2 separate regions of the Homo sapiens genome follow, and region 1 is linked to region 2. Evidence: fine-mapped expression QTL. A gene starts in region 2. The other region holds a variant in brackets. All regions are shown on one strand. Distances are from middle to middle. Region 1 holds the start of LOC105373404 (a long non-coding RNA gene). Region 2 holds the start of LINC00487 (long intergenic non-protein coding RNA 487).

What was found. PIP is the estimated chance that this variant, and not a neighbour inherited with it, causes the effect.
Region 1: its variant is the best candidate, but not a certain one, in a credible set for the expression of LINC00487 in caudate (GTEx, PIP 0.86).

What each region holds. Positions count from the first base shown.
Region 1 is chr2:6,793,287-6,798,661 of GRCh38, reverse strand. It overlaps LOC105373404 (a long non-coding RNA gene), which reads left to right and starts at 1,728. Exons shown (of 4, transcript XR_922745.3): 1 at 1,728-1,914; 2 at 4,359-4,518. The variant G/A (reference allele first, on the strand shown) is at 2,305.
Region 2 is chr2:6,767,979-6,773,353 of GRCh38, reverse strand. It overlaps LINC00487 (long intergenic non-protein coding RNA 487), which reads left to right and starts at 3,043. Exons shown (of 6, transcript NR_038369.1): 1 at 3,043-3,275. It overlaps LOC105373404 (a long non-coding RNA gene), which reads left to right. Exons shown (of 4, transcript XR_922745.3): 4 at 1-531. RefSeq lists an enhancer at 1-187.

The DNA of each region.
Region 1 (5,375 bases), 25 kb before region 2:
TGAACAAAATTGGTTGCTGGTAGGAGAAAAATTAAAGTCTAAGAATCGAATTGAGAACTAAGAGACTATGAGGAGCTGACTAATAGGCAATTGGGTAATTCGTGTGCCCCTCTCCACCTATAGACTCCTGTTTTTACAGAAGTCACCTCCTTAGAGTCCTATTATTACACAAGTCTAAAGACTCCTTACTAGGAAACTAGTCTTGGCATCGGTAAGCTAAAGCTAGTCAAGTGCTAATATTTACTGAGGATTCTAATTAGTGTTCTAATGCAGGGCCCGGCATGGCAACGTGATTGGCAAAGCTCGATGTGCCTGCATGTGCCGCACACTCGGATTCTTTCCCACGGTGATGCTGTGTGAGCCTAATCAATCTCCTTCCTCCCCTCCTCATTTTGCTTTTCCTGGGGAGTGAGAACAGACAGGAAAATGGATCATGGGCATGGTTTTTTCCCTTAGTATGACATGTCAAACAGTTTGAATGTCATTCAGCTGATACAACCTCGCAACGACGTGAGAACCGTCGTGGGAGAATGGCAATACAATCGGGATTAGGCTGAAGCTGGCTAGAGGGAGCAGGAAACACATTCTTTCCACTGCTCTTCTCATGAAGCTGCAAAACATTTAATTCAGAATTCTGGACCTATAGGATGTATAGGTGCAGAATCATAAGAGCAGTGGAGGTTGGTCTTTGGAGAGAGGACGCTGGGCCTCCTGTGGAATTTCGATAACCTCAGGATACTCTGTGGGTGAATGTGCTCTTCCAGGCTGAGGAAGCTATGCCTTCCCCACCACGTCTGGCCAGCTGTGGCCCAACCTCTGTTTCTGACCTGCACCCTTGACCACTCTTTCTGCTCTGGCCTTTGATGTTGGGCTCCACCGAGGCCAGGCCTCTGTTTTGCTTTCTTTTCACGTCTTGTCGATCATCTAAGACTCACAGCACTTGACTGTGGTGAGAATTAAAGGACATTATGGGTAAAGCACTTCTGGAGGGACTGGCAGTGTAAGACCTTGACAAGTGTCAGCTGCTCTCCCCAGGTTTCTCATTTTTAAAAATTTTGGTGCTAAAGTGCAGAAAGGCCCCATCCCAGGTCGGGTATTTGTGGCTCTTCTTTCTTGGTGCTTAGTGTCTTTAAAAGGGCATATGCTGTCCACAAAAACACATGGAAGAAGCCTGTAAGAAACCAGCTCAGAATGCTGCCGTCGGATTCCTGTCCCTCTTCTGATCTGCAGTTCCTGCCCTGCGATGAGATTTTCGGACCCTATCAGTTCTGCCCCTCTGCTTAAGAGAGTCTCTCCTGCACCCTGTTTTGATAACACATTTGCATGTACTTGTTTAGCTCAGTCTTTGGCCTTCACCCCTACACGAAGTCAGCTGCTCATCACCTTGCTTGAAAGGCTCAGAGAGCCACAGCAGTCTTCACCTGTTTCTATTTTTCTCTGATATAAATTGTAGACATTTTCTCATCTTCTGCAGAGAGCCCCATGATAATGTCAAACCCCCTCTTCCAACCAGTTTGCCTCTTCCAAGGCCATCTTGCATAGGAAATTTGGAGCCAATCTCTGAGAAGTAGAAACTGTTGGCCTCCATCTCAGTGGCAGGGGACTAACAAATATGCTTGCACTGACCCTGCATGCACACCTAGCTTCCCCAGACAGATGAGGCTGGACACTTTCTCTTCCTTCTGCACTTGCTGCTCTCATTGGGTTGCGCTTTCATTCTCTCCTTCTGCCTCTTTCTTGGTGATTTGATCATAAACATTGTGTGTTGGCTCACAAACCTGGGATTCCATCAGGCAGAATCCTGCCTGCAGGAGGGGGCAGGTGAGGATGCTGAGGGTGCGAGCATCTTCCTTTGTTGTCTCAGCATCTCTTTTTGAACCCAGGCATAAGAGAAGGCCCCTGTGTCATTGATAGGTAAGTTAAGACCAATAAAAGTATAAACATAACACATCTTAAAAACAGTGATATATCCTTTGTTTCTGAGAAAATACAGAGATGGCCTTAGAAAGGCTCTTGCACATAGGATGAAGCCTGAGCTGGTTTTAAAGCAAAGTGGTCTTTTTGATCATTTGAGAGAAGGGTGCTATCCTGGGCAGGGGAATGATATGAGCAAAGACAGGGATTCTAGAAGCTGAAACGTGTTGGGAAAGTGGAACAGGGAGCTGCAGGAAAAAGGAAAGTTGTTTGCTTACTGTGCATGAACCCAGAGTCTGCCACTCCCACATTCCCCGATCTTCTGGAGATTTCCTTTCTTTAAGATCTACATGCAGTGACCGAAGCGTGAAGCCACTTCCTAAGGGGAGC[G/A]TCCCCTTCTGTCCGAGGAGGCCCTTATTCTCATGGCCGGTGCTCGGGCCCCTGGATTCTTGCCCACCCACGTCATTGGTTCCCTGCCCACAGCCAGCATTTTACTCCTCGCTCCCCTCATTCTTTAAACTCCACCAACGCAGGCTTTGGAGAAACAGACTTTGCTGACATTTGGGAGCCATACAGTGGCCCCATCAGAGAACAGGCAACAACTTATGAATGACCACTAGAAATCCAGTCCAATCCACCACAGGCCATCCTGCCTGAGCTGCTCTCTCCTGAGCCTGCCTGACCCCATCACATCCTGGCCGACTCTCTCTCTCAAAACCTCTCTTCTCTCACTCTGTGTTTTCTCCTTTGTCTAATATCTCCACCAAGAGCAGGCAACAGTTTCTGTTGTTTACGATCAGAAGAGTTCATTTTTTTTTTCTAAACGTTTCTCATTTTGAACCAGTGGACCTTGACATTCACAGCCACACAGGCCCACTGAGGTCTTTTTCTTAAATAAAACAGCAACTTTTTCCTAAAGAGGCATTTGTCTTTCTTCTTAGACCACTGTTCTCCATCCTGGATGTGCATTACTGTCACCCGGGAACTTTTAGTGGCATCACCACCTGGGCTGCCATCTCTAGCGATGCTGATTTGCTTGGTTCCAGCTGGACTTGGGCACAGGCATATATTTTGTTTGTTCTGCTTTTGTTTTTATTTTTTTATTAATTTTTTTAAAAAGGGGATGGGCTTGTTGGAAAACATTCCCCAGGACATTCTAACACGCAGCCATAGCTCAGATCGGGAGTCGGCATCCTTTCTCCGTGAAAGGCCAGAGAGTGAAGATTTTCGACTCTGTGGGCCACATCAGGTCTCCGTCATAGATTATTCTTCTTCTTCGTCTTTTTTGATTGCTTGTTTTTAATTCCTTTACAAATATAAAAACCATTTTTAACTTGGGCCATAGCAAAGATAGGCTTTGGGCTTTTCTGACTGCTATTTTAGACCAACAAGTTCCATCTTTGGCCTTTCTTCATATAGTTCTATTTTCTTCTCCTTATGGAAAGTGGGTTTCAGGAGACTGGGCATTTTTAAAAATTTGTTTCCTTATCTTTAATGCAAAGGGATTGAATGTATGATCGCCTATGCTCCCTCCAGCGCTGAACTTCTCTCATTCTATTTTGTGGAGATGGCTGTGGTGAGCTCTTCTCAGGCCATGAGGCACGTGTGTCCTGGCCAGGAGTTCATCACAGCAGCCCACGAGGGGTGCATGGAAGATTCTAAGCTTTCAGGTGAAAAGATCTGGGTACCAATTCCAGCCTATCGTGTATAAGCCTCCCTCACTGCCCCATCTATGACTAGGATAATAACAGCGACTTGATAGGGCTGTTGTGAAGATTAAATAAGATGACGGAACCTGTGCAATAAAGTGGAAACAAGGCAGCTCCTTCGTCCAGGTGCCTCAGGTACTTGCTAACTGTGTGAGTTTGGGCAAATGCACTGCCCCAAGCCACGGTTTGCTCATGTGTAAAATGGGGATGATTATATCACCGCTTCCTTCAGAAGGCTGCGACAGTTAAATGGAGCAACCCATGTAAAGTGCGTTAGACAGAGAGGAGGCACTTAACAAACAGCTGCCATTAGACTTGCTGAGGTAAAAGAACCAGTTCAGTCACATGGCCCAGTGTAGGATCATGATCACGTGGTCAGAACATCAGCGAGAAGCTGAACAGTGCTTTTCTGTTGCTTCTCTAGGGTTTTTCCAACATATGCACAAAATCAGCAAAAATATATATAGAACCGAGGAGGCTCAGGGAAAATGACAGGCAGACATGCAGCTATTGCAAACCCGTGATGTGCCAGGCCCTGGGTTTCTTCCTGGAAATAGAGACATAAATAAGACACGGATGATGATCACCATCAAGGGTTCAAGGGCAGTGCATAGCTCTTTGTTCAAATCCACAGAAATATGACTCGAAGAAAGCATACGGTGGATAGAAAAGATCTTGCAAATCAGCCCTGTGTTCTTCTGTATCACAGTTCAGGAATGTCTCTTCTCCATGCAGGTTCATGGCACATCAACGAGTGTGACTGGGGAGTGCTGGCAAATCTACAGTTGAACTGCCTAATAATTTGTGGCATCAGAACCATGCAGGAGACAAACAAAATGACTTAGACCTTCTGTGTGATCTCACGAGGGTTGTGTTGTAGGGCTCCTGTAATAAGGTGAGTTATTATATCTGCGTAGTGCCGGGCAACATGCCTGGGCCTGCATGAGCTCCTCCTCTGTTCTTGGTCTCTCATTTGACATGAAGAATGAGAAGCAGACCGTTCCTGCATGCACTCACGTCTTCTGAGATCTATGGATCTCTGCTTTAGCTCTTCCCAGTTTACTATTTGATGAAGGAGAAAAGGAGAAAGGCACTAATAGGCACTAATCCTTTAACTTTTGACCAGTCTGTTTAACGACTAAAACTGCTCCTTGGAGGTTGACTTCATCCTCAGCATTTTACCTTTTTACTAATTTAGAAAACTAAAGTATAGAAGCTTTAATTTTTCCGGAGCCTCTGATCAGATAGTGGGAGAAACAACTTTTAAACTCTGGACTGTCTGCACCAAAAATCAAAGCCCTTTCACAATCCTACACAACTCTCCTACTTACCTCACAAGTAATTGAGCTTTAACAATAAAGAATATTTATAGAGTCCTTGCCTTGTGTGCTTACTGTATATACTGGAGTTTGTCATGCTCTCAGGAGGGAGGGTTTATAAGTGACCACACCAGTGCTACTTCACAGGCTAGGGAATTGCGTCACAGAGCAGAGTTTAGAAGCTTGCTTAAGGTGATGCAATTAATAGGTGGGAGAGTTAGTGTTTGAAGTAGCCAACGGGCCTGTTGTTTTTAAGAGCTGTGCTATAGAATCTCTTTTTGCTTGATTTTTGTCTCTAATCTTCTTGGTCTGGTCACAAGTTGCATCTCTATCGACAAATTGAAGCAGTTATCTAGAGTTTTCTGCCCTGGATTTTTAATAATTCATGCAAAGACCTTAGTCTGTTACTGAGGATAACATACTTGCCATGTGG
Region 2 (5,375 bases):
GCGGCATCGCGAGGACTGACCACTGGGTGGCACTGTTGCTCCATGGAGAGCTGCCAACGGCGTCCCCGGGGACCCGGCCACGTTGAGCACAAAAGGTGGGATTTCTAAGGTGTGCTCGGTGATGAGTTTCTTAATGAATTTACCTCTTCTATGGAATCTCCCTCTGCAGCGTCTCCTGCCGCCCGGGGCCGGTTTCTGACTGTGGACTCTGGGTTGAGCCCATGGGGTCAGTGCGCGTGGAGCTTGCACTGCCCAGACCCACAGCCCCAGGAGCAGCCACCTCCCGTGTCACCCGGGCGGCGTCCTGATGACATCACTTAGAAGATTAAAAATAAATTGAAGCACATGTCACCTTAAAGGGGGCACAAAAAGGACATCTGCATGATTTGATGCATCCATGAGAAAGGGCTGCTGGCTTTTGATTTAAACTGTTGGGAAAGAGGATTTTAAAGCTTGTAAGCTGCTAGTATTTCCAAAAGAATGACTATTTTTTATTTTTTATTATTTAAATTAAAAAAGCACTTCCCTGTTCCCCTGTCCCTACACTCTAATTCTTCTTGGCTTTGATTTGGGCGATATTGTAGGCAGCTTTCTGCTCCACGGTGAAGGTCTGCCCGAGGAAGGACGGGGACAATCTTGGGGAAGATGGGGGAGGCGGGGACCGATTTTCCAGCCCAGAGCTGGGGTCTGCAGAACCAGGAGCCCGGGCCAGGCTGGCCTATCAGCCATGACCATCTGTGCACCTTAGCCACCTACTCACAGCACAGCCTCCATCTGCAGATCCACCTAGGACTCATCCATTCCTGACTGGTCTTTTGTTTCAAAACCCGGCAGCCCCGGCCCCTCCCAAGCCTGAAGTCACCACACACGCCCATCCTCCCATCAGTCACTTCCTGGCTAATGGGGACTGAGGCCCAATCATTCTCGTTTTTCATGCCTTGTCAGAGGCCTGAACACAGAGACAGAGGAAGGGAGAGAGAGAGAGAGGGCAGCTCTGGAGGAGGCGCAGAGTATGGGCAGATGTCCTCATGAAAAATTTACAAGGAATAATCAGAGGCCCCTTCTCTCCCCTCTGGCCAAAGTCCCCCTAGGCTTGTTGCCCGGGCCGCTGTGAGAATATTGGAAAAGTCCCCCTCGTTTTGAAGGCAATCTGGTTCTGGGGGGTTAATGCCCAGCGTTGATGCACTTGGCTGTCCTCTTGAGACCGGGTTGCAAATGCAGTTCAGGCAAAATTGATGAAGTATCAGTTAATCTGAGGCTGACAGTTTAGAGAGGTCACAGCTGCGAGGGGCTGCCAGGGTCTCCCAGAGACAGGACTAAGAAGAGTTAAAGCCAGGGAGGGCCCGGTGAAAGGAAGCATTCATCTTCTTCGCCTGGGCATTTCTCAAACATTGCGCCTGCCAGGATCCCTGAGCCTCTCTCCAGGTGAGCAGTGTGAGTGGGGAGGCTTTCACTCTGGTGCGCACAGTCATGCCTCCTCCCAGACAAATCCAAACCCACATGCCTGGTGTTCCTGGCTCCTTGGGAAGGAAGAAGGAGGGAGTTGCTGCTCCTAATTGAAACAGGCAGTTAGGTCTCCTATGCAAATCCCCTTGCTGTAATTGGCACTGTGAGTGCCGCCTGCTCATTCCTCCGTTTCCCGCTAGGGGAAGGTCATCTTGGTAAGAGATGTGTCCACACGGGGTGGGCTCTGAGCTGCTCAGAAGGAACTCTGCAGAAGTGGGGAACCATTGACTCACACCCTTCCCATAGGTGGTTTCCTTCAGGCTCCAGCAATTTTTTACAACAAGGTGGTACAATGAGAAAAATACCGCTCTGCTGTTAGACCACATATTTCAATCCTTGTACTTCCTAAGAGTTCTGATAGTCCAAGAGGCTGGGGGCTATGGCCATGTTTCTCACTCGAATTGCCCTGGTACTGAAATGCATCACGTGTAGGGGAGACTCAGTGTTTGTGAGCACACACTGAGTGACTATAACTGAGTGATTTCAGAGAGACAGAAGAAGGCATGCAAATGCACTTGTCTTGAGTTGTTTTCTAGGGGACATGCTCAGGGCTCTGGGACCTACCTAGTCATCTCGCTGCCTGGAGAGGCGGCTGCTTGGCCATGTTATCTCCATGCCTTCTAAATTAGGATGCGGCTTTAGGTTCACATTCATAAATAATTGGGTTTTATGGGATAGGAAGCAGCAAGGGCTTTGCGTTGATCGGCCCTGGGTTGGGTCCTGGCCTCCCTAAGCTTTGAGAATGATTTTATCATCACCATTGCCTGCTTATGGGAAAATAGGGCGGCAGTTAGTCGTGGAGTCCCTGTGACAAAGTGGCAGGTGGATGGCTGCGCCGGGGGTCTAACCTGCGCTGTCACACTCCGTTCCCTCTTCCTTTCAGTGACAAGAATGCAAGTAATAGTGCTGAGAATCGTGTGCTCAGCTGTGCTGGGCTGAGCATTTTATGTGCATGAACTCATCCCTCCCTGCGAACTTGTGAGAAAGGTATTATTATTATCATTATTAATATTATTATTACCGTATTCTCTCTGCTTACAGACAGAGAGATTGAGGTGTGGCAAGTAGGTAGTAAAATCCACCTTCTTCTTCTGTGAGGTTCCTCCTGTTCCCAGGGGTGTGGGGACGGTGAGTGGTGGATGGGTGAGGTCTTACAATGCAAAACTGCTGATTTCTACATCCGAAAAAAATCATGAATATGAACGATTATAGCCAGATTGAAACTATCATTATTTTCGGTAAGAAAAAGTGCGTCTATTCACAGAAAGTCAGGTACTTTTCCCCAAAATCACATGGGAAAAGTGTGCAAATACAGAACAGCCCTTCCAGGAAGGAACTATTTTCTCCGAAACAGGAAATTGTTGTACATTCAGACACACCATAAATACACGTCTAGTTTGTACATGGCAATTCCAGGGTCTGAGGCTCTTCCTTCCTGGCCCTAGAATGGCGTCTCTTGCGCTGTGGGCTTCCTGTTGAGGCAGGGGCTGAGGAGGTGGGAAGCAGAGGCTGAGATTTTCCTTCACCACGGTCACAGAAGATGCGCTGTTCCAGGGGCCTGGGTGGGAGCAGCCCAGGAGCCTGCGTCTCCCCTCCTCGGCCCTGGGAGGCGGCTGGACTGTGCCACACGGGACGGGTGCTGAGGGACCGCTGGGTGCCCACCTCCCTGACCCCTCCTGCAGGGGTGCCTGCCAAGCAGCCTGGGCACTGCCGTCTGGAAGATGCGCCGTGCCGGTTCTACACGGTGTTCCCTTGCTCCAGGCAGAAAGGTCAGTCCAGGCTTCTCACTCCATCGTGGCCAGAAGCCAAGTCTCATGGCATGAGATTCAACCAAAGAGAATCTCCTGGAGCTTCTTTACCTCATCAGACTTATATCCCACACAACACACACACACCCCCATCCATAAATGTGTGTATGTATATACCACACACGTACACACACATATGCCACACACATGCACACCACACACACAGAATGAATACACATACACCACACACATAAACACACACGTGTGTATGTATATATCACACACTTAAACACACGCATGCCACACACGTGCACACCACACACACAAAATGAATACACAGACACCACACACACAAACACAGAGATATCACACACATACATACACACACCATGCAACACACAAACATGCATACACATATTCCACACACAGAAACACACAGACACCACACATATACACACAGACATGCATACACACAACACACATATAAACACACAAATGCCACACACCAACACATGCCACACACAAACATGCACACACATACACCACACACATAAACACACAATACCACACACATACACAGACACTAACACACACTACACAAACATGCACACACATACACTACACACAAAAATACACAGATACCACACACATACACAGACACTAACACACACTACACAAACATGCATACACATACACCACAGATGTAAACACACAGATACATACATACACACACACCAACACCCACACTACACACATAAACACATGCATCATATGTAACACACATTACACAGACTTATATCCCACACAACACACACATACCCACATTCAACACACACACTTGCTCACACCCCTTCCCACACAATCCAACACACACACCCCCACATTCAACACACACGCATGCTCACACCCCTTCCCACACAACCCAACACACACACACCCACATTCAACACACACACTTGCTCACACCCTTTCCCACACAACCCAACACACACACACCCACATTCAACACACACATATGCTCACACCCCTTCCCACACAACCCAACACACACACACACACGCCTCCACGTACATCTTTTTATGGTAGTTATTTTTTTGTAAGTAAAATATTTGTATAATATCAGCTTATTGTTTGCCATAGCATAACTTATTTCAAACTTGTCCAACCTGCAGCCCATGTGGCCTGGGGTGGCTTTGAATGCAGCCCAACCCAAATTTGTAAACCTTTTAAAAACATTGAGATTTCTCAGCTATGATTTTCTTTAGCTCATCAGCTATTGCTAGTGTGGTGTATTTTATGTGTGGCCCAAGACAATAATTCTTCTTCCAATGTGGCCCAGGGAAGCCAAAAGACTGGACGCCCCTGAATTATGTGGTTCTCATCCTAGGTGATTTTGCCCCTGGAGGTAGGTGGAAAGTCTGGAAACATTTTTGGCGATCGCAGCTGGAGGGGGCTCTTGGCATCTACGGGTGGAGCCAGGGTTTAGGGTGTGTGCAGCACCAAAGGCTCGATGCCTCCCCAACACCAAAGAACCCTCTGAGCCCGTAGTGCGGAGACCAGAAACCCGATTTCAATTTCCTAGTAAAAGAAAACGGAAATGAAAACGACAAAACGGTCCTGTGTCTTCTCTCTTCTCGGTGCAGCTATCTGGATGGGGCGACTTGGAATTCCGAGTCTAGGCCTTGCACTGATTTTCCCCCCTGACATCTGGGAAGCCATTTCACTGTTTAAAACCAAAGATGCTGAGTGGCAGCTGCCACCAATTGGAAGGGGACAGGAGAAAGGGATTTTTATGAAGAGCCTGTGTGCCTTGGATGCTGCAGGTGGAGACCTCTGCAGTTTGTCCAGCAACTGCCTGCCAGAGATGGGCCAGAGAAGGGCCAAGCAGCTCCCTCCTATCGGAGGTCCACAGGTGGACCCCCACCCCCAGTCTCCATCCCCGGTCCACGCCCCAGTCCCTGCTGGTGGGGAAGCTGGGGAGCAGGCCATGCGTGTAATTCCAGAAGCTATTGCATGGCAAAGGCTACGTGCCCTCAAAGCCCGGGCACCTCCCTGGCCCCACAACTGCTTCACACAATACTTGTGTTTCTGTACGTTCTATGTGAAGTTTCAGGAAAGAAT